Linked DNA regions of Homo sapiens. The protein of the gene in region 7 purifies or fractionates together with the protein of the main gene of each other region. This does not show direct contact. Each region holds a gene or a part of one and is shown on either strand. Other genes may lie near its edges.

Region 1 (3,500 bases), on a different chromosome or scaffold from region 7:
ACCTCAGAACATCAGGCATTAGACTCTCCTAAGGAGCACACAATCTAGATCCCTTGCATGCACAGTTCACATTTGGGTTCATGCTCCTATGAAAATCTAATGCTGCCTCTGATCTGACAGGAGGCAGAGCTCAGGTGGTAATACTATCTCACTCCCTGCTCGCCTTCTGCTGTGCAGTCCTGGTTCCTGATAGGCCACTGACTGAACAGTACCTGACTGAGACTGGAGACTCCTGCCCTAGGGTATATCCCCCAGGTGTAAAGGATGGGCTCTTCTTACTGGAATGGGCCTGAGGGGGCAGTTCTTGGGGCAGATATATTAACCTTACAATCTGTTACTCTGATATTTCATTTCTTTTAAAGATGTTCCAGTCTTAAGAGAGTCCACTCTACCACCAAATCCCCTTTCTTAAAAAAGCAAGTATACTTGGGCAGAGACATGCCTAAGGCTGTTGTTCATTAATATCCATATCATCCTAGACTTACCCACTAGGAGTTACACATTGGCTTCAAACAGCGTTTCTCAACTTTGACATTACTAACATTTTGGACTGAAGAAAGTCTTGTTTTAGGCGGTTCCCTGCATATTACAGGATGTCTGGCTAGCAGCATCCCTGGGCTCTACCCACTAGATGCCAGTAGCAGCCCCTTGAAAACAATGAGAAATGTCTCCACACACTGCCCCATGTCCCTGGGGGACAAAATCTACCTCCACCTAGTTGAGAACCACTAGTATGGTATAGTCAAAGGAATCTTACTAATAAGCTAGTGGGGCTGTTGTATCAAATCCATTTTCAGTTGTGGAAACTGAGACTCTAAGAAATAATGATACAGGTTATAAATGGTAGAGCTAGCATTTGTACTCAATGTGATTCAACTGCAAAATCATGTGTTCTTTCAACTAAGAAACAGTTCTTTCTTCCTTGGAGCAGGGTTAGTGAACAATAATCTGGGAGAAATAAATACAGGACGATGTGCCTGAAGGAAGTGAGATCCTGGACACTGATGGAGGTGATGGGAGTGAAGACGGTATTGATGAACTTTACCAACTGGTCTTGCAATTATATCTATTATAAAACCAACTCCCCTGCTCTTCTGGCATCCTCCCCTCACTAGAGACAAGAGCCAACTGTGCTTCTAGAAAGAATATTATTCTTTCTTGCACCTTGTCAAAACTTTATCGGTTTCTCTAGTGAAGACCTGGAAAGACTATGTAAAGGATTAGTCTTCAGTGTAAAAATGACTATGGTAGGGGCACCACTACTTCAACATTAGGAATTTGGAAACTTTCCAAAATAAAATTCCTGGATAGCTCTTGGTTATGTTTTAAGAAATCCCTGGTTCTGGGCCAGAATTTAGGTCCTATAACTTAAGGAAAAAAAAAAAAAAAAAACCTGTGTGAAATAAGTCACTTAATGCCTATAGAACTGGTTCCCCATTCCTGTCTAGGTAAAAGGAGAGATGATACATCTCTTCTCTTCTACCTTCATCCCTACCAGAAATGCTTTGGGATAAACTGGAATTGTACTTGTCAAGTAAGTATGTCAGCTATTACATACCAACCCTGATAATTACTAGGATACATCTACGATTTTTGAATTAACTTATTATACACTATGTATAAAATGCAATATTGTTATACTTTTCTGAAAGTGAATCCTTCAAACTTATTTTCAACTGGAAAAAAGAGAAAAATGTAGAACTTGCAGTCCATATGGCTTTTTTTCAAAGCAAATTACTTATGACAATTATGTACAAGGCTGGTTCTTAAATCCACTCTTGGGAACTGAGAGGCAATCAGGACTCAAACATGGGCTCCATGTACTGACGTGGATGACTTGCTGATCAATCAACAGCTCCAAGTGAACAGTGATTAATGAATTTTGTCATCCTAGAGTGAGGACTCTAAGTTGCATAAGGCTTTGTCTCTAGCCCTATATTTTCAATATTTTAAATAAACAATATGGGTGAGAAGAAGAGAGGCATCCCTGAAAGAAGGGATCCTTTTGATAGCATTCCTTATGGGAAACAGTCAGTCTACTAGAGGATACTCCAAGACACAGGAACTCCTGCATTATAAGGAAGCTGATTTCATTTCTGGTTATTTCAGCCAGAACACTTGCCCTTAATATTAAGTAGAAATCATAATTTTATGGAGCCACACAAGGCTTGAGTCCCTTCCAAATGAAAAATATTTTAATTAAAGATTCCCTATCATATCCATTCATTCCAGCACTATTCCAGTCCACCTACATTCCAATCCCAATTTCATTCTCCCCCAAATGTTTTCAAAATACTCTGGTTTATTGTTTATCTTAAAGGGTAGGACCCAAAACTGGACTCATAGTCGAATGAGAAATAACTGAATATGATACATTAATGCTGAAAAGCATTAGTTGCTTTGCATTTCTCTTGAGAATCTCCTTCACCCTTTCATAAAACCAACTGCGGGCCACATTTGGCTTTCACTCATGGCAAAATGCATGCACGGCCAATAAAAAGTATTACATGCCATAATTTGGTTTCACAGCTTGAGTCCCAATTGAAAAGATAAACCCTGGAATTATCTAGAGGTAAACTGGTTTGTAACAGCCTGGTGGCACTATCAAAATGTCACTTAACAGATACTCTGGGATAGATCATTACTACATTTCTGCTTGCTGGCCCACTAGTTTAAGAAACAAACAAACAAAAAAAAAACAGGGAAGAATAGGTAAGAAAATATGTTATGCGTAAATCATCCCATGGGATGGTACCTAACTTCTTCAGGCCACATAGAGCTCTTACTTACAATATTGGCAAAGTAACTAAAAACATTATTGGGTAGAGAAAATTCACCTTTAAAACTGAAGTAGAGACAGAGGTGTAAATTTTCCAATTTTAAGTGCAAAGACAAAGCATTAACAGGTGAATACCTGGGCTCTCTCTCCTTCCTCTCCATCCCCACTGGCATCTATCTCTTCAGATTTAATGCCCTGCCCTCATCTCTCCCCCTTCATGGTATCCACCTTGTGACCCTCCAGGGATAATGGTCCTTAATTCTGTTGAATAATCAAAAGAGAAGATGCTGACTGTGAGATCTGGGGACATATGGTAACAGTAGCACAAGAACAATTATCTTTAAAAAAGAGCTAGGCACGAAGGACCTTAGGAACATTCTTAGAAGTGGCCAGAGATGCTCTATGTCAGGGAAGCAGAAGCGAACCTGAGGACACGCCAGTTTTAGTATCTCACAGTATAATACGTGTAGGAGGGTGAGCAGCACAATCATACTGAATTTGCTTTCACTATAAAAAAGAAAAGAGACATGGAACCAGCTGAAAATTCTGGATGTACTGTGGCAATTTCCAGAACAAACAGGTCTCATTTGGTTGGGAATGCAAATCTTCATTTTGAAGTGCTCCAGCCTCACAAAGCAACTGGGAAGAACAATTACTGGAAAAGGCTGGTTTCCTCAGTTTGAGGGCTGGCCTCAATGGCTATAGTAAAAGCTAACAGTTA
Region 2 (3,500 bases), on a different chromosome or scaffold from region 7:
CTGGATCCCTTCCCGACCTCAGTGTCCTCCTTCCTAGCAGCTGGAGACAAGATGATTTCCAACATCTTCGCGGGATGCTTTACAATTTGACATCCCCCAAAGAATGCGTGTCTGGGTGTCTGGGAAAACGTCCCCAACACACATGGTGGGTCCAGAAAGAATTCACACATTGAGAAAACAGTTTGAAACCAACAGGACTTCCTGGCAAACCCTAAATTTACCTGAAAATTTAATTAAACAATAATTACAGTAAACTCAGGTCTTATTGTACTTATCTGCTGATGCCTAAAAGCCCTTGAAAGCAGCCCTAATCCTTAATAACTGAGCAATGTCCATGCTCCTAAAGACACCACATGCACAACTCAGACTGCGCATAAACACCGCTTGCAATGCTAAGGTGGAGGCTGCTCCAAAGCCTTCAGAGCAATACTGAGAGTGACACAAATGACACAAACGACACGCACGGGAGAAGCAACACATCTTAAAACACCTGCAAGACAAGGACAAGAGCAACTTGGCAAATCAGCTCAAACTCTGAAAAACGTTGATTTCTCTACATGCCTGGTGGGGAATCATTAAACCCTAAAAAGAGCAAGCATTTAATATTTTCCTGACATCCCCCTTCAAATTATCTTCTACCACTCCCAGATCAAAATTCCATAAAGGGAGACCTCAGAAACCACCATCAATTGATCAATTCCATCCAGTGTTTCATGATCTGAAAAGCCCATCACCCCTTGCCTGGATGCTCAATCCATTCCACCACCAAATATTTACTGCAAAGCTGCTATGTGTCAGACACTCTATCAGACTGGGCATCCAACAGTGAACATGAGTGAAATCTCTAGCTTTTGCTCTTAGGGAGCTTATAATCCAGCAGAATTCTCCCTGGACATGAAGTAGGAAATGGTTAAAAACTCACTGAATAATGCCTTAATAAATGATTGGCTGAACAATAAACTTCTATTAGGGGATGAACAAAAAAACCCAAAACACAACTGACAAGAAATAAGTATCTCTTTGGGTTTCTATTGAGAATCCAAGATTGTCATCATTTTAAATAGGCATAAAAGAAAACCAGTTTCCTAGTCATATTGTAAGAAAGGTAAAAATCATGTTTGAGACCACCACAAACTCTTGCTAAGCAAAAGGCGAGGTTCTCAGCAAGACTTTACCTTTTTCTCAGGTTTGTCATGCTCTCTGTTCTTCTCCCTGTCCAGGTCCCAGGAGTGCTCCCCGTTTTTCACTCTCCGTCTGTCCCTGTCCTTCCCTTTGTCCCGGTCGCGCTCTCGGTCCCTGTCTCTCAGTCTCTCCTTCTCTTTCCCCCCCTCACTCTTTCTCTCTGTCTCCTTCTTGCGCTCGGAGTCTCTGTCCCGCTCCCTGTTGCCTCTGTCTTTCTGTCGCTCGTTGTCTGGCCTGGCCCGGGCTTTGGCTCTCTCTCTCTCCCCTTCTCTGTGTCTGTTTCCGCCATTCTCCTTGGCCTTCTCCTTGTCCTTGTCCTTTTCTCTTGGCTTGCGGTCTTCTTTCAATTCTTCCTTCTGTTTTCGATCTCTGCTTGTACTTCTCTCTTTTATTTCAGCGTCTCCTCTATCCTACGAAATAAAAATAAAATCATTTATGAATATTTTTACCTAAACTACAAAAAGACTCACTATTTCATTTTCAAAGATGTGCGACTTGGAATTCACCTCTGTATTTTTGTGAACTCTGGACTCTTCTTCTCGCACATTCTTATTATCCAATTCCTGAGATCTTGAGGTCAGTGAGGCCCGGCCTTTCACTTCTCCCTTCTCTCCAGCTAAAACCCTCCGCACCGCATCGTCACTAGAGAGCTTGTCGTCCAAATGGAAGGAAATGAGGTGTTAGGTGAAATGAGATCCGCACACGTAACAAATAGAACATCGCCATTCAAAGATAGCTCATGAGACAGATTCTCTGTCTACAATGAAATTCAAAGGATAAAATATTTTTTGAACATGTTATTATCACATACAAAGCACAGCATATCTTGATAACTATTACTTTCAGCACTTTGGTCACTAACAGTAGCGTCCACCCAAGCTAAATGAATCCTGGTTCAAGTCTACCCAAGCTGTCAAATGTGAATGTGTGTGTTCAAGGTTAATAAAGCTGACCCATGCAACTCTACTACAAATACCTTAAACTTCTAATGGGATCATAGAATCCCAGCCATAAGTGCCTTAAGATTTTATCTAACCACCTCACACCCATTAGGATGGCTGCTCCTAAAAAAAAACACACAAAACCACAAGCATTGGCAAGGATAAGGAGAAATTGAAGCTCTCATGCACTGTTGGTGGAAATGTAAAATGATGCAGCCATTATGGAAAATAGTATAACAGCTCCTCAAAAAATTAGGCACAGATTTACCATATGACCCAATAATTCCCCTTCTGGGTATTTATCCAAAAAAATAGAAAACGGGGTCTTGAAGAGATATTTGTATACCCATGTTCATAGCAGTATTATTCATAATAGCTAAAATGTGGGAGCAAACTGTACCATTGACAGTTGAGTGGATAAACAAAATATGGTATATCCATTACAATGGAATATTATTCAGCCCTAAAAAGCGATGAAATTCTGATACATGCCACAACATGGATAAACCTTGAGAACATTATATTAAGTGAAATAAGCCAGTCAAAAAAATGACAAACACTCTATGACCCCACTTATCCGAGGTCCCTAGAGTAGTCAGATTCATAGAGACAGAAAGTAGAATGGAGGGTGCCAGGGGCTGGGGTACGGGAGAAGAGGAAGTTAGTGTTTCATGGGGACAGAGTCTGTTTTGCAAGGAGAAGAGTCCTGGAGATGGAAGGTGGTGATGGCTGCAGATGAATGAATTTACCAGCACTGAAGTGTACACTTCAACATGGTTAAGATGGCAAATTTTATGTTTTATGGACTTTAACACAATAATAAAATTATGGGTAAAAAACCACTGATCTGATTCAAGCCCCATCAAACGCAAAAATTCCTTCTCCAGCATCCCCGACAGCCATCCAGAGTGCAGGACACCTCAGTCAGGAGTCCCACTGACTCACGCACTCATTCCACAAGCACATGCTGCGTGATTGCCGCGTGCCAGGCTCCATTTAGGCCAAAGACACACCGTGTACTGGGGACACAGATAAACACAACAATTAAACAACAGCCTATAGGAAGCCTACAGGGGCACCTAAGTCAGCCTGGGAGGGAGGAGAGGCCCAGGCTCAAGGAAGCACTCACAGACGCCACATTGTTGCTGGGTGAGGCTGGAGGAGGAAGGCAGCTCAGGTACCAAGAAGCCAGCAGGCACCAGGGCAAGAGGCCGACGGGAGACAGCCGGCCAGGGCCGAATGCAGGGGTGCGTGGCGACTGGAATGGAGGGCTCAGATATGGGAAACGAGAGAAGGATCTGAAGGGAGAGAAGTAGCAGCAGGTCTCTAGGAGCCTCACAAGCTGTGCCATGGAGCTGGCCCAGACCCGAGGCTACT
Region 3 (3,500 bases), on a different chromosome or scaffold from region 7:
ATTGGGATGGTGCAGGTGGAGATTAGATACAAATAAACAAAGTTGAGGTTAAAGAGACTAGGATAAGGTCATGTAAAAATTTGTATGGGATCTTTGGTTTATGAACTAATGGCTTCTGTGGGTGTTCTTTATGCTGGTGTGTTGCAGCTTTGAATTAGCTATGTTTTTGTCTACCTGGAATTACTACAGTTAGTGAGATAGTGAGAAATGAAGACCTAATTAATATTTGCTAACTTAAGAATGTTGAAAGATTTTTGGGTGGGAATTGAACAATGAGAACACTTGGACACAGGAAGGGGGACATCACACACCGGGGCCTGTTTTGGGGTGGGGGGAGGGAGGAGGGATAGCATTAGGAGGTATACCTAATGTAAATGACGAGTTAATGGGTGCAGCACACCAGCATGGCACATGTATACATATGTAACAAACCTGCACGTTGTGCACATGTACCCTAGAACTTAAAGTATAATAATATATATATATAAAAGATTTTTGAAATGAAATAATGATCCATAATACCTTTATCTGGATTCCCAAAATCTAAAAAGATATTGGCAGCAAAACCTGACCTGACCTGAACTGACGTGAGGCTATTTATAGTTTTTAATTATCCTACCTAGTGTGACTATTTATGCTTTTTGCTATAGAAATATTCGTGTACTTGATGACAAGGTATTCCCTCAGACTTTGCCATGGGAGTTATGTAATCATAAGTATATGTGCTGTATTACTTTTCTAAAATCCAAAGAATTCTGCATTCTGAAATAGAACTGCCCAAGGGTTTTAGATAAGGGATTATGGACCTATAAATGCATACTGAATGCTATTAATTGCATTAGTAGTGGTGATATAGGTATATAATTGCTATATTTAAGCCTATTTTATATCCAGATTTGTTGAGAGTTTGTTTGCCGTAGTTTTTTTTTGTATGTCTATATGCCAAGTAACTGGAGGAGTTACATTCTTGATATATAACTACTGTTGGTTTGACTGTGAGTATATTTTTATTGTGGTAAAAAAACACATAACAAAATTTATCATCTTAACCATTTTGAAGTATACAGTACAGTAGTGTTAACTATATGCACATTGTTGTGCCACGAATCTCTAGAACTTTTTCATCTTGCAGAACAAAAACACTTTACCTCCTGAATAACAACTCCATATTTCCCTATCCCCTGACCCCTGGAGACCACCGTTCTACTTCTGTTTCTATGAGTCTGACTACTTTAAATTACCTCATATAAATGAAGTCATACAGTATTTGTCCTTTTGGGACTGACTTAGTTCACTTAGCGTAATGTCCTTAAGGTTCATCCATGTTGTAGCAAAGAAGGATTTTCTTTTTTAAGGTTGAAACATTCTATTGCATGTATATATCATATTTTAAAGTCTATCTGTAGACAGACAGATTGCTTCCACCTTTTAGCTATTGTGAATAATGCTGCAGTGAACATGGGTGTGTAAGTATTTCTTCAGGATCCTATTTTCATTTCTTTTGGACATATATGAATATTTAAGAATATTTTCTCTTTTCTATAAACTAAATAATTTTATAGTTTTATTTCATTTAGAAAACCTCTGTTTCGTATTTTAGACCTTCATGCCTAAGTTTTTCATTTATCTAAAGTCAATGTAAATTCAACAAGTTTTTCCCCCTTTAAGCTATCTTTCTGTAACAGCTGTCAAGAAATGTACATTTTTTAAAAGGCAAAAATCAATACCAGGAAACAAATTCAATAATCAAGACTTTGTATTCATTCCGTACTTTATACTTTGTGTTTATAATTCCTTTTAACAACTAGTCATTATGGGCCAGGGGAGGTGGCTCACGCCTGTAATCCCACCACTTTGGGAGGCCAAGGCGGGCGGATCATCTGAGGTCACGAGTTCAAGAGCTGCCTGACCAACATGGTAAAACCCCATCTCTACTAAAAATACAAAATTAGCCTGTGTGGTGGTGCAAGCCTGTAATCCTAGCTACTCAGGAGGCTGAGGCCGAAGAATCACTTGGACCCGGGAGGTGGAGGTTGCAGTGAGCCGAGATCGCGCCATTGCACTCCAGCCTGGGCAACAGAGTGAAAATCTATCTCAAAAAAAAAAAAAAAAAAAAAAAGTAGTCATTATGTGTTCTCCTGAGATGTACAGTTTGAAAAAAAATTGAAAACTGGCTTCAATGGAGATAAAAATCCAGTTTAATAGTATGATAAGGATTTTGCTGGAAATTTTTCTTTGTAAGGGTTAAATTCTTTGATGCTTATAATTAATTTCATTTACTACATTGTTTTCATTTTAACTTCAACCAACCATATAATTTATTCTTTCTTTCCTTCCCTAACACCATCCCCCACCTCAAGAAATTTTTTTGTATCTTCAAAACACCATGAGAGGTTTATAATATTCTTGTTCGCCTTTCAGATAGAATGGATTTAGTGTACTCCATGTTGTTGTTGTTGTTGTTGTTGTTTGAGACGGAGTCTCACTGTCGCCCAGGCTGGAGTGCAGTGGCGCGATTTTGGCTCACTGCAGGCTCCGCCCCCAGGGGTTCACGCCATTCTCCTGCCTCAGCCTCCCGAGTAGCTGGGACTACAGGCACCCACCACCTCGCCCGGCTAATTTTTTGTATTTTTAGTAGAGACGGGGTTTCACCGTGTTAGCCAGGATGGCCTCGATCTCCTGACCTCGTGATCCGCCCGCCTCGGCCTCCCAAAATGCTGGGATTACAGGCGTGAGCACCGCGCCTGGCCTTTTTTTTTTTTTTTTTTTTTTTTTTAATGGAGCAATCACTTCTTGGGGGAAGGGTGAAGAAAACTTAGATATTATAATGGCCCTCCAGAGGTCACCATACCTAAATGGCTACACACCACATGGGTGATGTAAAAATTTCAGGGGAGGGAGGTGATTGGGGAAAAAGAGTCTGTAATCGACTTCTTAGGGAATCAATAATGTAAGAAAAAGGTTGAGAAACACTGGTGTACTGCATGGGCAAAGAGGCAAGGGATTTATGAGCAATATTTTTTATTTATATTTTTGGAAAGGAAACTCCAGAGAGTAAACAAATGTGCTGATGACAGACTATCTTAGAAACACTTCCCCGGGTCAAAGTGGTTCCTTCTGAGATTTTGCTCCTATGTACACACTGCTTGGTAAACTTTGCAACTTCACGGCATATCAGAAGGAACTAGACTGCATCCTCTTCCTGTCTCTTCCCTTGGAGTAGCATTTAGCTTTTCATTGCGGACCTGTTGTTAAAGGAAGATAAACTTTACCCTATACCAGCCATTTTCTCCTTTTATCAAGAAAAATCAATTTGTATGGTTCTTAAATGTATTTCCCTAGTATATATTCAAATTAAACTTGCAGTTAGATTTATATCAGTGTTTACTCCAAATAGTCAAAATATCTACAGGCTAAAAACAGTTCCTATTTCGAGCATTAAAATAGCATAAGCCTTAGTCACTTGTTCAGCTCTTTGATTCTCATAACTATTTCTAACC
Region 4 (3,500 bases), about 30 Mb from region 7:
GGCGAGAGATGGCCGTGGGTCCTGTGGCACCCAGCCTGGTCCCCACCCCGAGGAATCCAGAGGGCCCAGGGCAGGGAGGGCGCAGCAGCGGAGATGGGAAAGGCCCACCCACAGCCACGCCCCACTGCCGGGAGGAGCGCTGGGCCGCCCACCCCACAGCCTGCGTACCTGACGGGCCCAGGCTCCCCTTCGATGCAGCTCACCACCTGGAACTTCTCCAGGTCCCAGAAGCGGATTGTCCTGCAAAGGCAGCCAAGCTGTGCTGCGAAGCCTATCCCTCATCCTGGCCTCCACATGTCCCTGGGAAGCCAGCTTTTCTCTAGAAACCTCTCCCCCAGGGCAGGGCCACCAGGAGCAACATCTGGGGCAGAGCTGGCCCTGACTTTGCAAGGGGGAGGCTCGGCCCGATGGCCCTGGCCCCAGGGTTGGCCCCAACAGCCACGAGCCTCCCTGCCCTATGGGGTCCCACTAGATGCCTTGGGTCCCAACCTGCCCATGAAGCCACAGACCTGGGACACTGGGGCCAGGGAACCAGAGCCAGGGGAGATGGACCAGGGTCCAGTCCTGGCTCGGCTGAAATCCAATTCAGTCCACACAGGATCATCAGACGTATGACACCCCAGACAGCGACAGACCGGCAGTAGAGACACGCACAGAGGACAAGGCGGTGAAGGACAGCAGTCACAAGCAACTCGCCTCGCTCCTCCTCCTCACCTGTCAGAGCTGCCGGAGGCCAGGAGGTACTCGTTGGGGTGAAACTCGACCACGTTGACAGGCCCCGTGTGACCAGGGAACTCAGACATCATCTTGCCGGCAGTGAGATCCCAGAGCTGGAGGCAGGGCAGGGAGGAGGTCAGGGTGACCAGGCATCTTGGCTGCCCACCCTCCCTCTAATCCAGGCCAAGCTCTTTATCCACAAGCTACCTTCCACTCGGGATAGGCTTGGGACATGTGAGCCCGATCAGGAGGGAGGTGAGGACTCAGCCTGCTGTGATCAGCAGACCCCAGCCCCCAGCCCCTGGGCCCAGGTCAGGCCGGGAGCTACCTTCACGGTGTGGTCATCTGCGGCCGACGCCAACCACTTCCCATCGGGGCTGAACCGGAGACACCGCACGGCCTGGCTGTGCCCCTGAGGGAGGACACGGCATGAGCTCACCCTGGGATCCTGGGCCCAACAGACCTCTCCCTGCCTCCTCACTCCTATGGGACCCCTTCCATCTAACAACACTGGTTACCCGCCTGGTTCTGCTTGGAGCAGTTTGATGAACGTGGCTCTAGGGGATTCATGCAGAGCCAGGGGATCCAGGTGGGCCGCCCATGGCGCTCCTGCTCAGCTCCAGGTCTATGTTTTATGTTATCACCCATGTGGGACAGCCGTCCCCTCCACCCCCTGCTGGGGTCTGGGCACCACACCACACTCAATGCCCGCAAGGTGCTCATGGAGTCACCGACAGAGCGCATCCTTACCCTGTATCGGAAGACACAGCCTTTCCTCCTGATGTCCCAGAGCTGTGGGGGAGAGAGAAGCAGAGGGGCAGAGTCAGGAGAGGTCAGAGCCACGACTGGAGGAAGGTGTGCAGTCGTGAGCAGACGGTGGGGCCCAGCCTTCTCTAGGTCGTTACTCCCCACGGAGACAAGGACAGAAACTGCTCACTAAAGCTGGCATTCTGAGCAGAAGCATCTGGCAGATAGATGCCTGCCACCCGCTTTCCCTAGGATGGTGTGGATGTGGCTGCAGAAAGGGAAGAGGTCCCCTCAGCAGGCATCCAGCACTGAGGGCCGGGCCGGGCTGGTCCTGCCACAGGCCCAGCAGGAGACACGGGGCACGGACCGGCCTCTCACCTTGATGTTTGTGTCCTGGGAACCAGAGGCTACAAACTCGCCGTACGGGTGGAAATCCAGGCTGCAGATGTTGGCTTTGTGTCCCATGAGTGTGCGAAGAACTAACAAGAAGGAAAGCAGAGACAGTGGCTAAGAGGCAAATGAGAAGGCTGGCAGAGGAAGGGCTGCTGTGGGCATTTGTGTGTGCGCTTTTGGATTAGCTGCACAGAAAAATAGAACAATAACACACATTTTTAAAACAGTAGGAAACAATCAAGGGTCCCACCACCCTAACAACGAATTTTCTTTTCTTCCTTTTTTTTGAAAAGGAGTCTTGCTCTGTCGCCCAGGCTGGAATGCAATGGCGTGATCTCGGCTCACTGCAACCTCTGCCTCCCGGGTTCAAGCAATTCTCCTGCCTCAGCCTCCCAGGTAGCTGGGATTACAAGCATGTGCCACCACACCCGGCTAATTTTTTTATATTTTTGGTAGAGATAGGTTTTCACCACGTTGGCTGGGCTGGCCTCCTGACCTCAAGTGATCCACCCGCCTTGGCCTCCCAAAGCGCTGGTATTACAGGTGTGAGCCACTGCGTCCTGCCAACAACTAATTTTCCCACATTTCTCTTGAGAGGTGACAGCCCTATGTTACCTCAAGTCTGCAGAAATTGTACCACACTCTCCCCACAGACTGTGCTCCAGCGGAAGCAGAACCAGGGAACCACCACACTCAGTTCAGGCCCCATGGGTGTGGAGCTTATGGTTTGCAGGGCACTGAACCCCACCCAAGACAGTGCAAGGAGAGAGACAGACCAGGAGAGGTTCAAGCTGGGAGAGAAGCTGCTTGGTTGGAAAGAGAAATCCAGGAAGGCTTTATGGAGGAGGTGGTATTTGAGTAGATGTCAGTGGGTGGAGGATGAGGGATGCTGTTAGGTAGATGGAGGTGATGGGCAAAGGCCCTAAGAAGGGCAAGTGGAGGGCATGGCTGGGGTGGCCCTGGTGCACACACCAGTCTTCTTGGGTGACCTCTGTCCAAGGGATCTTGAGGGTGGCTGTGAGGACACACTGAGGAGCAGTGAGAACTGAGAGGACACAGGGAGGACACGCGAGGACCAAAGAACTCCTGGGGTGGGGCCTGATCGCCTCCCACTGCCCTAGGAACCACATCTCCTATCCTTTCCTTGAAGGTTTTGCAGGCATCTCCATGGCCAGGAGCGGCCCAGCCTGGAGGCAAACCTTGTGTGTTTCAGGGTGTCCTCCAGTACCACTCAGATTTGTCTCATGTTTCCTGCTTTTGGAAAGATTCATAATTCACTATCTGAATGAAACTGACCATCCCAAGTGCCAGGGTCAGGAAATGTGGGAGTCCAGCCATTCTTAGTTTTGAGCCAAGGTGCAATAGGTCACCTTGTGAGGTAGTGAGCTCTCTGTCAGAGGAGGTATTCAAGATTCCATATATAACACTTTACTGCAGAGTCAAGATCCAAGCACTGGGTGAATTAAATGAACTCTACTGTATGATCTTCTCTACCCCCAAAGTCAGGATGTGGGCTCTGGCATCAGACAATACTGGGATCAGCCTTGGCTCCGCTCCTCACTGGTGGTGTGACCCTGGCCAATCACTTACTGTCTTTGGGCCTCATGTTGGGTCACAGAATGGAGTAAACATACATAAAGTGC
Region 5 (3,500 bases), on a different chromosome or scaffold from region 7:
AAGGTGGGCAGATCACCTGAGGTTGGGAGTTCAAGACCAGCCTGACCAACATGGAGAAACCCCTTCTCTACTAAAAATACAAAATTAGCTGGGTGTGGTGGCGCATGCCTGTAATCCCAGCTACTGGGGAGGCTGAGGCAGGAGAATCGCTTGAACCCAGGAGTTGGAAGTTGCGGTGAGCCGAGATCGTGTCATTGCACTCCAGCCTGGGCAACAAGAGCGAAACTCCATCTAAAAAAAAAAATTTTTTTAAGTAGCCAGGTGCGGTGACGCATTTCTATATTCCTAGCTACTTGGAAGGCTGAGGTGGGAGGATCACTTGGGCCCAAGAGTTGGAGGCTGCAGTGAGCTATGATACACCTTGCACTCCAGCCTGGGTGACAAAGGACCCTGTTTCTGAAAAATAAATAAATAGAAACAAAATAGAATATTACATACCTGTTAAAAGAAAAATGTAGCCTGGGTGCGATGGCTCACACCTATAATCCCAGCACTTTAGGAGGCTGAGGCAAGAGGATCACTTGAGACCAGCCTGGGCAACACTGTGAGACCTCTTCTCTATAGAAGAATAAACAAAATTAGCCGGGCATGGTGGCTCACTCCTGTAGTACCAGCTACTCAGGAGGCCCAGGTGGGAGGATTGCTTGAGCCTAGGAAGTCAAGGCTGCAGTGAGCTAAGATTGTGCCACTGTCCTCTAACCTGGTTGACAGAGCGAGACCCTGTCTCAGAAAAGAAAAGGCCAGGCGCAGTGGCTCATGCCTGTAATCCCAGCACTTTGGGAGGCCGAGGCAGGTGGATCACAAGGTCAGGAGTTTGAGACCAGCCTGGCCAAGATGGTAAAACCCTGTCTCTACTAAAAATAAAAATAAAAAATTAGCCAGGCATGGTGGCAGGTGCCTGTAATCCCAGCTGCTTGGGAGGCTGAGGCAGGAGAATTGCTTGAATTCGGGAGGTGGAGGTTGCAGTAAGCCAAGATCACGCCACTGTACTCCAGTCTGGGTGACAGAGTGGGACTCCATCTGAAAAAACAAAAAAGAAAATAAAAAAAATGCAGGGCATAAACTTTGATTCGGAATGTCCATAATACATCATTAAATGATGAAGTCAACTTAGAAAACTATTCTAGTTTGATCCCATTTTTGTGAAAACTTACATTTACACACAGAAGCATACATAGCAATAATAATTCTAGGTAGTTGGTGGCAGTAGAACTAGGATGAAACATTGATACAGCTGTGGGTTTGAATGTCTTAGTAAAAAACATACATTTCTATCAAAACTTAAAATGCAAATCAGAGGGAGAATAAATTAATTACAGCTGGGCTCAGTGGCTCATGCCTATAAGCCCAGCACTTTGGGAGGCCAAAGCAGGTGGATTGCTGGAGCTCACGAGTTCGAGACCAGCTTGGGCGACATGGTGAAACCCCGTCTCAAATACAAAAAATCAGCCAGGCGTGGTGGTACACACCTGTAGTCCAAGCTACTTGGGAGGCTGAGGTGGGAGGATGGTTTGAGCCCAGGAGGCAGAAGTTGCAGTGAGCTGAAATCATGCCACTGCACTCCAGCCTGGGTGATAGAGCCAAACCTTGTCTCAAAAAAAAAAAAAAAAAAAAAAAAGGAAGAAAGAAATTACAGTATAATGTGAGAAGGGCAGTAATGGCTGTCTATCCTACATGTAGGGCTCCAGAGGATGGCTTCACAGAGCTATGTTGTTGGTGGAATTATGGGTGATTTTTTTCTTTAATTTTCTTTCTATAATATTGTTTGTTTTTTGGGGTTTTGTTTTGTTTTGTTTTGTTTTGAGACCTAATTTTGCTCTTGTTGCCCAGGCTGGAGTGCAGTGGCACGATCTTGGCTCACCACAGCCTCAGCTCACTGCAACCTCTGCCTCCCGGGTTCAAGCGATTCTCCTGCCTCAGCCTTCCTGAGTAGCTGGGATTATAGGCATGCACCACCACGCCCGGCTAATTTTGTATTTTTAGTAGAGATAGGGTTTCTCCATGTTGGTCAGGCTGGTCTCGAACTCCCGGCCTCAGATGATCCACCTGCCTCAGCCTCCCAAAGTGCTGGGATTACAGATGTGAGCCACCACGTCCCCCAGGCTGGAGTGCAATGGCGTGATCTCAGCTCACTGCAACCTCCGCCTCCCAGGGTTAAGCAATTCTCCTACCTCAGCCTCCCGAGTAGCTGGGATTACAGGTGCGCACCACCATGCCCGGCTAATTTTTTTGTATTTTTAGTAGAGACAGGGTTTCACCATGCTGGCCAGGCTGGTCTCGAACTCCTGACCTCGTGATCCGCTCACCTTGGCCTCCCAAAGTGCTGGGATTACAGGCGTGAGCCTTCACGCTCGGCTGTTTTGTTTTGTTTTGTTTGAGATGGAGTCTGTTCTGTTGCCCGGGGTGGAGTGCAGTGGCGCAATCTCTGTTCACTGCAACCTCCATCTCCCCAGTTGAGGTGATTCTCCTGCCTCAGCCTCCCGAGTAGCTGGGATTACAGGCCTGCATCACCACATCTGGCTAATTTTTGTATTTTTAGTAGAGATGGGGTTTTGCCATGTTGGCCAGGCTGATCTTGAACACCTGACCTCAAGTGATCTACCTGCTTCAGCCTTCCAAATTGCTGGGATTACAGGCATGAGCCACCACGCCCAGCCAATACAATATTGTTTTAGTAAATGCTATTTTTAATTACCCATATGCTTCTCTATAGTCATCTTTGTTGCATTCAGGGAATGATAATTTGATTTCCTACTGTTGCACCTGTTCTTTCTAATGTAGGAATACTAGATCTGAGGAATAGGAAAGCCAGTACCAGTCCAGTTTTATTCTGATTAGGAGTGCTTTTATTATAAAAGCAGCACATTAGAGAGCTCTAGGGTTTTTCAGTGTTGAAATCCTGTAGTCACATTACTTTAGGAAGAGGTGAGTGATCTTAGGAAATGTGGAAACATGACAGGGCATACCTGAAACACACTAAGTCTGTACTTTGGGAAGGGCAGAAGTTAAGAATTAATCTAACTACTACTCCAACTGTCTTAGGTACTGAAGAAGACCTGGAATTTTATGTCAGGAAGTGTGGTGATATTCTTGGAGTAACCAGTAAACTACCAAAGGACCAACAGGATGCCAAACATATCCTTGAGCACGTCTTCTTCCAAGTGGTGGAGTTCAAGAAATTGAACCAGGTACAGAGCCTACAAGGCACAGTGTAGTGGGAGCCCCTCCAGTACTGGTATCTTCCATGGACTGTGCTTGCCATGTTTTATGACGTTGATTCAGCCTGTAAATATTTATTAAGCATCTACTAGGTGAACAAAACAGACAATAAACCCTGTACTTATGGAACCTATATACTAGCTGGAGGATGTAGACAATAAGCAGTAAACATAAGTGAGTCACATAGGATGCTAGAAAATGGTAAGTGCTTTGGTATAAAAGAAGTGGAGGCTGGGCGCAGTGGCTCACGCCTGTAATCCCAACACTTTGGGAGGCTGAGG
Region 6 (3,500 bases), on a different chromosome or scaffold from region 7:
GGTAGACAACAAAAGGACTAGGAAAGGCTTAAAGTTTACCCATAAATTTCATAGCTAGCACAGAAAAACACCAGCATCTTCTAAAACAATTTAAATAGATCAAATCTGAGATAAACTAAAAAAAACCCTAATAAATCAGAATACACTGACCAACTCCTTCTCACAAAAACATCTCTATGACCCCCTTTTTTCATCCCTTTTTGTCATTATCATACTTCCCTCAATCCCTCAAATTGTTCAAAATTGTTCATTTGTTAAAAATAGCCTCAGTAGCATAAAATTCCAGTAGAAAAAAAGAAAATACAATGTAATATATATTATATTTTTGTAATGTACATTAAGATTTTTCCTAACTTCATATAGATAATTCACAAATCAGATTGACGAAAACATAAAAAGATAAATTGGACTATATCTGCCCACAAAAACAGCATTGTCTAAAATACCTTGTTTAACAGCATAAGATAAAGCTCATACTTTTTATTACAACACGGAGATTTATACTACCATCTTTTATAAATTTACAAATCTTCTCTAAAAGCAATCTACCACATATTTTTCCTAAATGTTGATAATTTTCTGTTGTTACTTACTTTCTGTTGTTTCTCCTTCAAGGCTAATTGGCTCTTTAGCCGTTCTACTAGATTTCTCATTGTAGTTGTTGGAGCTCTTGAATTTGCTTCTTTTTGAGCCTGAAGTTCAGATTTTAAACACTGTGACTCCTTTTGTGACTGGTCCAGAAGATACTTTAAATCCTCTACTTCCGCTTTTACTTTTTTCACTTCATCTTCATGGTTTTCTTGAAGCCTGATGTAAATAAACATATGTGTGTGTGTGTTTTTTAATTTTTAATTTTTTTGAGACCCAGTCTCACTCTGTCACCCAGGCTGGAGTGCAGCAGCGCAATCTCGGCTGACTGCAACCTCTGCCTCCCAGATTCAAGTGATTTTTTTGCCTCAACTTCCTGAGTAGCTGGGACTACGGGCGTGCACCATCAGGCCCAGCTAATTTTTGTATTTTTAGTAGAGATGGGGTTTCACCATGTTGGCCAGGCCAGTTTGAACGCATGACCTCAGGTGATAAGCCCGCTTTGGCATCCCAAATTGCTGGGATTACAGGTGTGAGCCACCACACCTGGCCAAACATATGTAATTAATAGAGTGGTTGCTGCAATTCATACCTTGATTAATACAAATTTCATATAGAGCAAATGTTCAGTCCTAAGTATCCTTACAATCTAAATCTTGATGCAGGCATCCAAATCCAAAGAAGAATAATTCTTTATTTCATTTAACTACTCTTAGACTTAACAACACATTTTTCTTCTAGTTTCTAATATTTTTGGCAACAATCTTATCAAGTTATTTTGTGACTCTAGTCAAATATACAGAGAATGAACAAAAAGGCATTTTAAATATTATGGCTCTTGTAAAATGTGATTGCTTCCTCTATATGATAGTTTCCTAACCATACTACTAGTAACATTTTTGACTGGATAATTCTTTGTTGGTGGTGGGGCTGCCTTGTGCATGATAGGATGTTTAGCAGCATCTTTTGATTCTACCCACTGGATACCAGTAGCACCCCCGAGCCATGACAATCAAAAATGTCTCCAGACATCGCCAAATGTCCCCAAGAGGGACAATGGTGAAAAACTGATCCTCTATATTTGAGAAATACTGCCCTATATTGACATATTGAAAAGACTAATATAAATTTTCACAGAAATCACATGTATTATTAATTTGTTTATGGTTCAAATTCACTAGCATTATATCTATAACTATATATATGGAAGTGGATACTATCAAAAGATTTAGTTAATTCAATTAATCTTATTGCTTATTCAGCATTAAGTCTGTTAAACTGAATTAATATATTGTTGTGCATATGGACACTGCATCCATACTGAGATTCTGACCAATAAGAGGGAGATAGTGTTAAGACATGAACAAATGTTACTCTTTGAGGCTTCTTGCTTTTGGCAAAACTTAAGTCTAACTTTAAAGAGTCATCATCAAATTGTGAAAATATCAGGATTTACTTAAGAAATCACACAGATCCATAATCTCCTAATACATATCAAAATATGCACACAGAGAACACAAGTATAATTTTGGACTAAAATGACGTAAGGTACACAACAATAACTTCAAGTATTTCCTGTGGCAAAAAAATGTATTATATAAGGTATTTCAAAAGATTATGATTTTCTACACCCACAAATTAGATGCAAAAGCACAAGTAATTTTATACTCCAAAACATGACAGAAATTTACTAGACCAAAAATAACATCTCTTGTACAAAATTTAATAGAGTGAGGAAAAGAGACTGAAAATACACATATGCTGTTGCCAATTTTCTTTCTTTTAGAGAGTAATTTCTTAACAGTGGCAGCTCCTTAGCAAAGCAAAAATAGTGTTAATTCTGTCAGAGGCATTTGAATAAGTGAGTAAAGAATCAAAGACTCTAGCAGGGGCTTGAGAGCTGAAATGGAATTATAAGTCAAGCAGTTCAATTTTCTCATGTTTTTTCAGATAATAAAATTTAGGCCCATAGAGATAATATTATAATGATTAGAAACTACCTAACTATAAACCTATTTTGAGTTTAAAATCTACGTTCTGATAAAGTGGTTGAACAATGTTTAGAATCTCTATTATATGACAGACACTCTTATAAGTGTGTAATCAAAAGTTTTCTATCTGTATGTTATTTTACAGTTTTCAAATTACTTTCATACACGGTATAATTTGACCTTCATATAACCACCCTGAAAGGGCCAGGGTAAGTATTATTATTTCCATTTTAAAGATGATGAGGCTGGGTGCAATGGCTCAGGCCTGTAATCCCAGCACTTTGGGAGGCCGAAGTGGGCGGATCACTTGAGCTCACGAGTTCAAGACCAGCCTGGGCAACATGGAGAAACCTTGTCTCTACAAAAATACAAAAAAACTACCCAGGTGTGGTGGCACCTGCCTGTAGTGCCAGCTACTCTGCAGGCTGAGGTGGGAAGATGGTTTGAGCCTGGAAGGTCAAGGTTGCAGTGAGCTGAGATTATGTCACTGCACTCCAGCCTAGGAAATAGAGCCAGACCTTGTCTCAAAAATAAAAATAAATAAATAAGATGAAACTGAGGCTCAAAGAAGGTAAAAATGAGATTCTGGAAAAGAATTTGTATTGGCTTTTGAGTCAGACTGACTAGTTTCAAATTATGGCTTTCCCATCTACCCCCAGACATGCTATTAAGCATTCCTGAGGCCATATCCTCTCTTTAAAATGGGGAAAATGATAACATATGTAACCAGCAGTCCTGAGGATAAAAATGAGACAATATACTTAAAAGTCTTAGAACAGTGCCTGGCATAGCAAACACTTATGTTTATCTTCATTATATCACTTATCATTTGCCTATTTTTACAATACATTTCGAAGACTTACTGTAATTTGATATTTTCAAATTCTTTTACTTTTAATTCAGTGATTTCTCTTTGTCTCT
Region 7 (3,500 bases):
CTGGGGAGGAGATGCGGTCGCAGAAGGGCCATAAGGGAGGGGATGTGGAGCTCACTTAGGGCACTGCTCAGACCCCACCTCCCACCCCCAGGAACAGAAGGACTTAGTCCTCTGGTGGCGGGAAGTGCTGACGGCTGGCAGCTCACCACTGAGGCTCTTGACTTGTGACTGCCCTTGGCTGAAGAGAGTCTCCTTGCAAAAAGCCATGTCCGGCTGGGCACAGTGGCTCATGCCTGTAATCTCAGCACTTTGGGAGGCCAAGGTGTGTGGATCACCTGAGGTCAGGAGTTCGAGACCAGCCTGACCAACATGGTGAAACCCTGTCTCTATTAAAATTACAAAAATTAGCCGGGCGTGGTGGTGGGCACCAGTAATCCCAGCTACTTGGGAGGCTGAGGCAGGAGCTCTCTTGAACCTGGGAGGCGGAGGTTGCAGTGAGCTGAGATCATGCCACTGCATTCCAGCCTGAGCGACAGAGTAAAACTGTGTCAAAATAAATAAATACAAATTAAAAAGTAAAATAAAAAGCCATGCCCCTCCCCAGGGGCAGCCCATAGCCAGTGCCATGTTGATACAGATAAAGACATGGCCCCTCACTCAACTCAGGATGACCCCAAAGGGCCATCCCAGGTTCCGAGCTCCCTGTGGAGCAGGCTGAGGCCTTGAAGTGGCTGAACCGCAGACCAGCTTCTCCCTCTGCCCAATCCTGCCTCCTACCCTTCCCTGACAAGAGCACACCCCAGGAAACTCCATCTCAGGGTCTGTGTCTAGGGAACCTAGCCAGCGACAGGTGGTCGTCAGAAGGCAGAGATGGAGCAGGGAGGCATCCTAGGTGGAAGGTGTGGCTTGCACAGGTGCCTGCAGGTGGACTCCAGAGATGGCATGGGGAGGTCCCGGAAGGGCTGACACCAGGATTCGGAGAGGCTCCAGCTTCATTTTGGAGATGAGGATGGGGAGGTGGGGAGGGGATCCTGACAGTGTCACATCTTTTGTCTCAGAAGATAAAGTAGAAGCGGGTCACATTCACAGGGGGCAGGAGAGAGCAGGAAGTGAGGCTGCCAGGAACCTGGTTAGCAGGGTGCAGGAGGGAGGAGATCACAATCAGCAGTGACCTTGGGCTTGAAGATTCCCCAGGACGGGGAGGGGCTGATGTGGACACGCATGGATGAAGAGAGGAACTGGCTGGAAGGATCAATGGAAAAGAAGGGTGAGGAACAGGCCCAGCAGAAAACCCCTGGGATTTGCTCAGAAGTCACAAACTGGCAGCCAGCTGGCCAGATACACAATAAGTGTTTTATTTGGCTCATGTGATATTTTAAAACATGAGAAAATTCGTTACACACATTTGAGAATCTGGAGACTTCACGTAAGACTCTAGATTTCCGACTTCTTCTGAAAAGTCAGAAGACCTGGTACCCTGGGCCTGTGCACCTGCCCCCACCCCCGGGGCAGAGTGGATGCAGGTTTTCTCTGCCTGTGCATCTACTCTTTGGTGGAGTTGGAAGAGACAGCTCGGGGCACTGCACCAACAGATGCCTTGGGTCTCTTCAGGCTCTAATGTCCTCTTGTTCTACACTTTCTGGGTGCCAACTACACCTCCTGGGTCAGGGTCATGGTCACAGCTAACACATAGGGTGTCTGCATGCAAAAATGCCCCTCAGGGAAGGCAAAATGCTAAGAGATGCCCCTCCTCTGGAGTGAGGTGGCCCTGCTAGGGCCAGGGAGCTGAGCGCAGGCTGGTTTCAGCCTCCACTTGCCCCATGGCCTGGTGTCTCTGTACAGTGTCCAACCCACCCGATTGTCCAGCGAAACCCTGTCCCAAGTGGCCACAACTCCCCCTGTCCCTGGAAGGTCCTCCTTCCACCCAACACTGCTCCAGGAGAGCTACTCACAGATTCCGTGGTAGATGCCTGGCTCTGGCGTGGTGACTTGGGGGACAGGGGAACTGGATGGGAGCTCTAGCTCCGGGATCTGCACATGGGTTGGAGAAGCAGAGGAAAAGGGGGTGGTTTTAGTGATACCCACACAGCTAGCTGGCTGGCTGTTTCTGCATTTACCACTGCCCACCCTATGCCCAGGTAAGTCCTTGTGTGTTTTCCTGGATTTTTCTGCCTTTGTGGAAGCTATGGGACCAGTGATATGGGCGGACCCTGACCCTCCAGGGTCTGCATCCTTGTCAGCAGCTCTCACTGGCTGGGGAGGAGCCTGATGCTAACAGCTAAGGTGTTTAAATTTCCTCCAACAGGGAAGGACTCAATAAATGCTTATGTGGTGAGCTAGAGGAAGAAAGAAAGGAAGGAAGGAAAGGAGGAGGAAGGGAAGAAGAGAAGGAAGGGAGAGAGGAAGGAAGGAAGGAAGGAGGAAAGGAAGGAGGGAAGGAGGAAAAGAAGGAAGGAGGGAGGGAGGGAGGGAAGGAAGGAAGGAAGGAAGGGGAAGTGGAAGAATTCAAACCATAGAGAGTGGCTCTTAACTTTGGCTGTTCACTGAAGCAGAATCTCTAGGGGTGGGGCCCAGACATTTTTAAAGATCCACCCAAGTGATTTCCACGGGTAGCCAGGATAAAAAATCCTGGTCTTCAGAGAGTCAACGGTGGGCCACCACACCCTTCTTGGGCCTTACATATAAACTATTTGCTCATTGTCTCTTTGCACCATAAGTGAAGGCGCTGGTCTCTCACGAGACTGAGAGAGTGATCCCCCCAGCCCCTCACAGCGCTGGGCCCATCAGAGTCCCTTACGAGCACCTTTGTCATTTGGAAAACGCTGGGCAAATGGAAGCGCCCAGGGTAGACTCCCACCTGGAGACCCCTGGGTCGAATCAGGAGCACAGGCACGGCTTGTGGCCCAAAAAAGGTTTGAACACATCTGAATTCACTGCCAGCATTTTTAAATGGAGAGGTTTTACAGAAAAATCCAGCTTTCTGGCTTCTCTTGTAAAAATCAGGAGAACTGGCAACAATGGGCTTGCCCCTCTTGGTGGCCGCTTTCCTTAGATGTGGGGAGGGGGAGGGGCACGCACTCCCCAGCTGCCTGTGCCTCCCCATGCCCTGCTCCTGCACCCCATGCTCTGCCTGGCTGCGAGGTACAATCCCCAGGGAACACCATGGGGTCCACACGACATGTTGCTGTCCTGCCTCAGTCATGACCTTCCCACAGCCCAGCCCCATCCCTTGTGGCTTGTGTTGTCCCCATTTCTCCCCTACCCTGTTTAACCATCTCCTCTTTTTCCTATTGGTCCTGACTTGAATTGACCTTGAAGGTCATCTTTCATTTTAAAAGATTTGTTTATCTGGCTAAGTGTGGCGGCTCTTGCCTGTAATCCCAGCACTTTGGGAGGCCAAGGTGGGAGAAGCGCTTGAGTCCAGGAGTTCATGACCAACCTGGGCAACATAGCAAGACCACATCTCTACAAAAAATAAAAAAAAAACTAGCCAGGCATGGTGGCATGCACTGTAGTCTCAGCTACTCAGGAGGCTGAGGTGGTAGGATTGCTTGAGCCCC

What was found.
Region 1: the proteins of KATNIP (region 7) and OBI1 purify together in Homo sapiens (tandem affinity purification; one large-scale study listed by IntAct). This does not show direct contact.
Region 2: the proteins of KATNIP (region 7) and TRAF3IP1 purify together in Homo sapiens (tandem affinity purification; one large-scale study listed by IntAct). This does not show direct contact.
Region 3: the proteins of KATNIP (region 7) and IFT74 purify together in Homo sapiens (tandem affinity purification; one large-scale study listed by IntAct). This does not show direct contact.
Region 4: the proteins of KATNIP (region 7) and KATNB1 purify together in Homo sapiens (tandem affinity purification; one large-scale study listed by IntAct). This does not show direct contact.
Region 5: the proteins of KATNIP (region 7) and IFT52 purify together in Homo sapiens (tandem affinity purification; one large-scale study listed by IntAct). This does not show direct contact.
Region 6: the proteins of KATNIP (region 7) and CEP290 purify together in Homo sapiens (tandem affinity purification; one large-scale study listed by IntAct). This does not show direct contact.

Annotation. Positions count from the first base shown.
Region 1 is NC_000013.11:78,652,656-78,656,155, forward strand, and holds part of OBI1 (ORC ubiquitin ligase 1), read right to left. Parts: intron 1-3,500. UniProt on the Homo sapiens protein: E3 ubiquitin ligase essential for DNA replication origin activation during S phase.
Region 2 is NC_000002.12:238,327,018-238,330,517, reverse strand, and holds part of TRAF3IP1 (TRAF3-interacting protein 1), read right to left. Parts: intron 1,833-3,500; coding exon 1,689-1,832; intron 1,593-1,688; coding exon 1,176-1,592; intron 1-1,175.
Region 3 is NC_000009.12:27,050,412-27,053,911, forward strand, and holds part of IFT74 (intraflagellar transport protein 74 homolog), read left to right. Parts: intron 1-3,500. UniProt on the Homo sapiens protein: Component of the intraflagellar transport (IFT) complex B: together with IFT81, forms a tubulin-binding module that specifically mediates transport of tubulin within the cilium. Binds beta-tubulin via its basic region. Required for ciliogenesis.
Region 4 is NC_000016.10:57,749,270-57,752,769, reverse strand, and holds part of KATNB1 (katanin p80 WD40 repeat-containing subunit B1), read right to left. Parts: intron 1,944-3,500; coding exon 1,843-1,943; intron 1,510-1,842; coding exon 1,468-1,509; intron 1,130-1,467; coding exon 1,046-1,129; intron 831-1,045; coding exon 715-830; intron 241-714; coding exon 169-240; intron 1-168.
Region 5 is NC_000020.11:43,639,437-43,642,936, forward strand, and holds part of IFT52 (intraflagellar transport protein 52 homolog), read left to right. Parts: intron 1-3,042; coding exon 3,043-3,188; intron 3,189-3,500. UniProt on the Homo sapiens protein: Involved in ciliogenesis as part of a complex involved in intraflagellar transport (IFT), the bi-directional movement of particles required for the assembly, maintenance and functioning of primary cilia. Required for the anterograde transport of IFT88.
Region 6 is NC_000012.12:88,079,589-88,083,088, forward strand, and holds part of CEP290 (centrosomal protein of 290 kDa), read right to left. Parts: coding exon 3,443-3,500; intron 2,789-3,442; exon of another isoform or gene 2,725-2,788; intron 808-2,724; coding exon 594-807; intron 1-593. UniProt on the Homo sapiens protein: Involved in early and late steps in cilia formation. Its association with CCP110 is required for inhibition of primary cilia formation by CCP110.
Region 7 is NC_000016.10:27,752,644-27,756,143, reverse strand, and holds part of KATNIP (katanin-interacting protein), read right to left. Parts: intron 1,972-3,500; coding exon 1,893-1,971; intron 1-1,892. UniProt on the Homo sapiens protein: May influence the stability of microtubules (MT), possibly through interaction with the MT-severing katanin complex.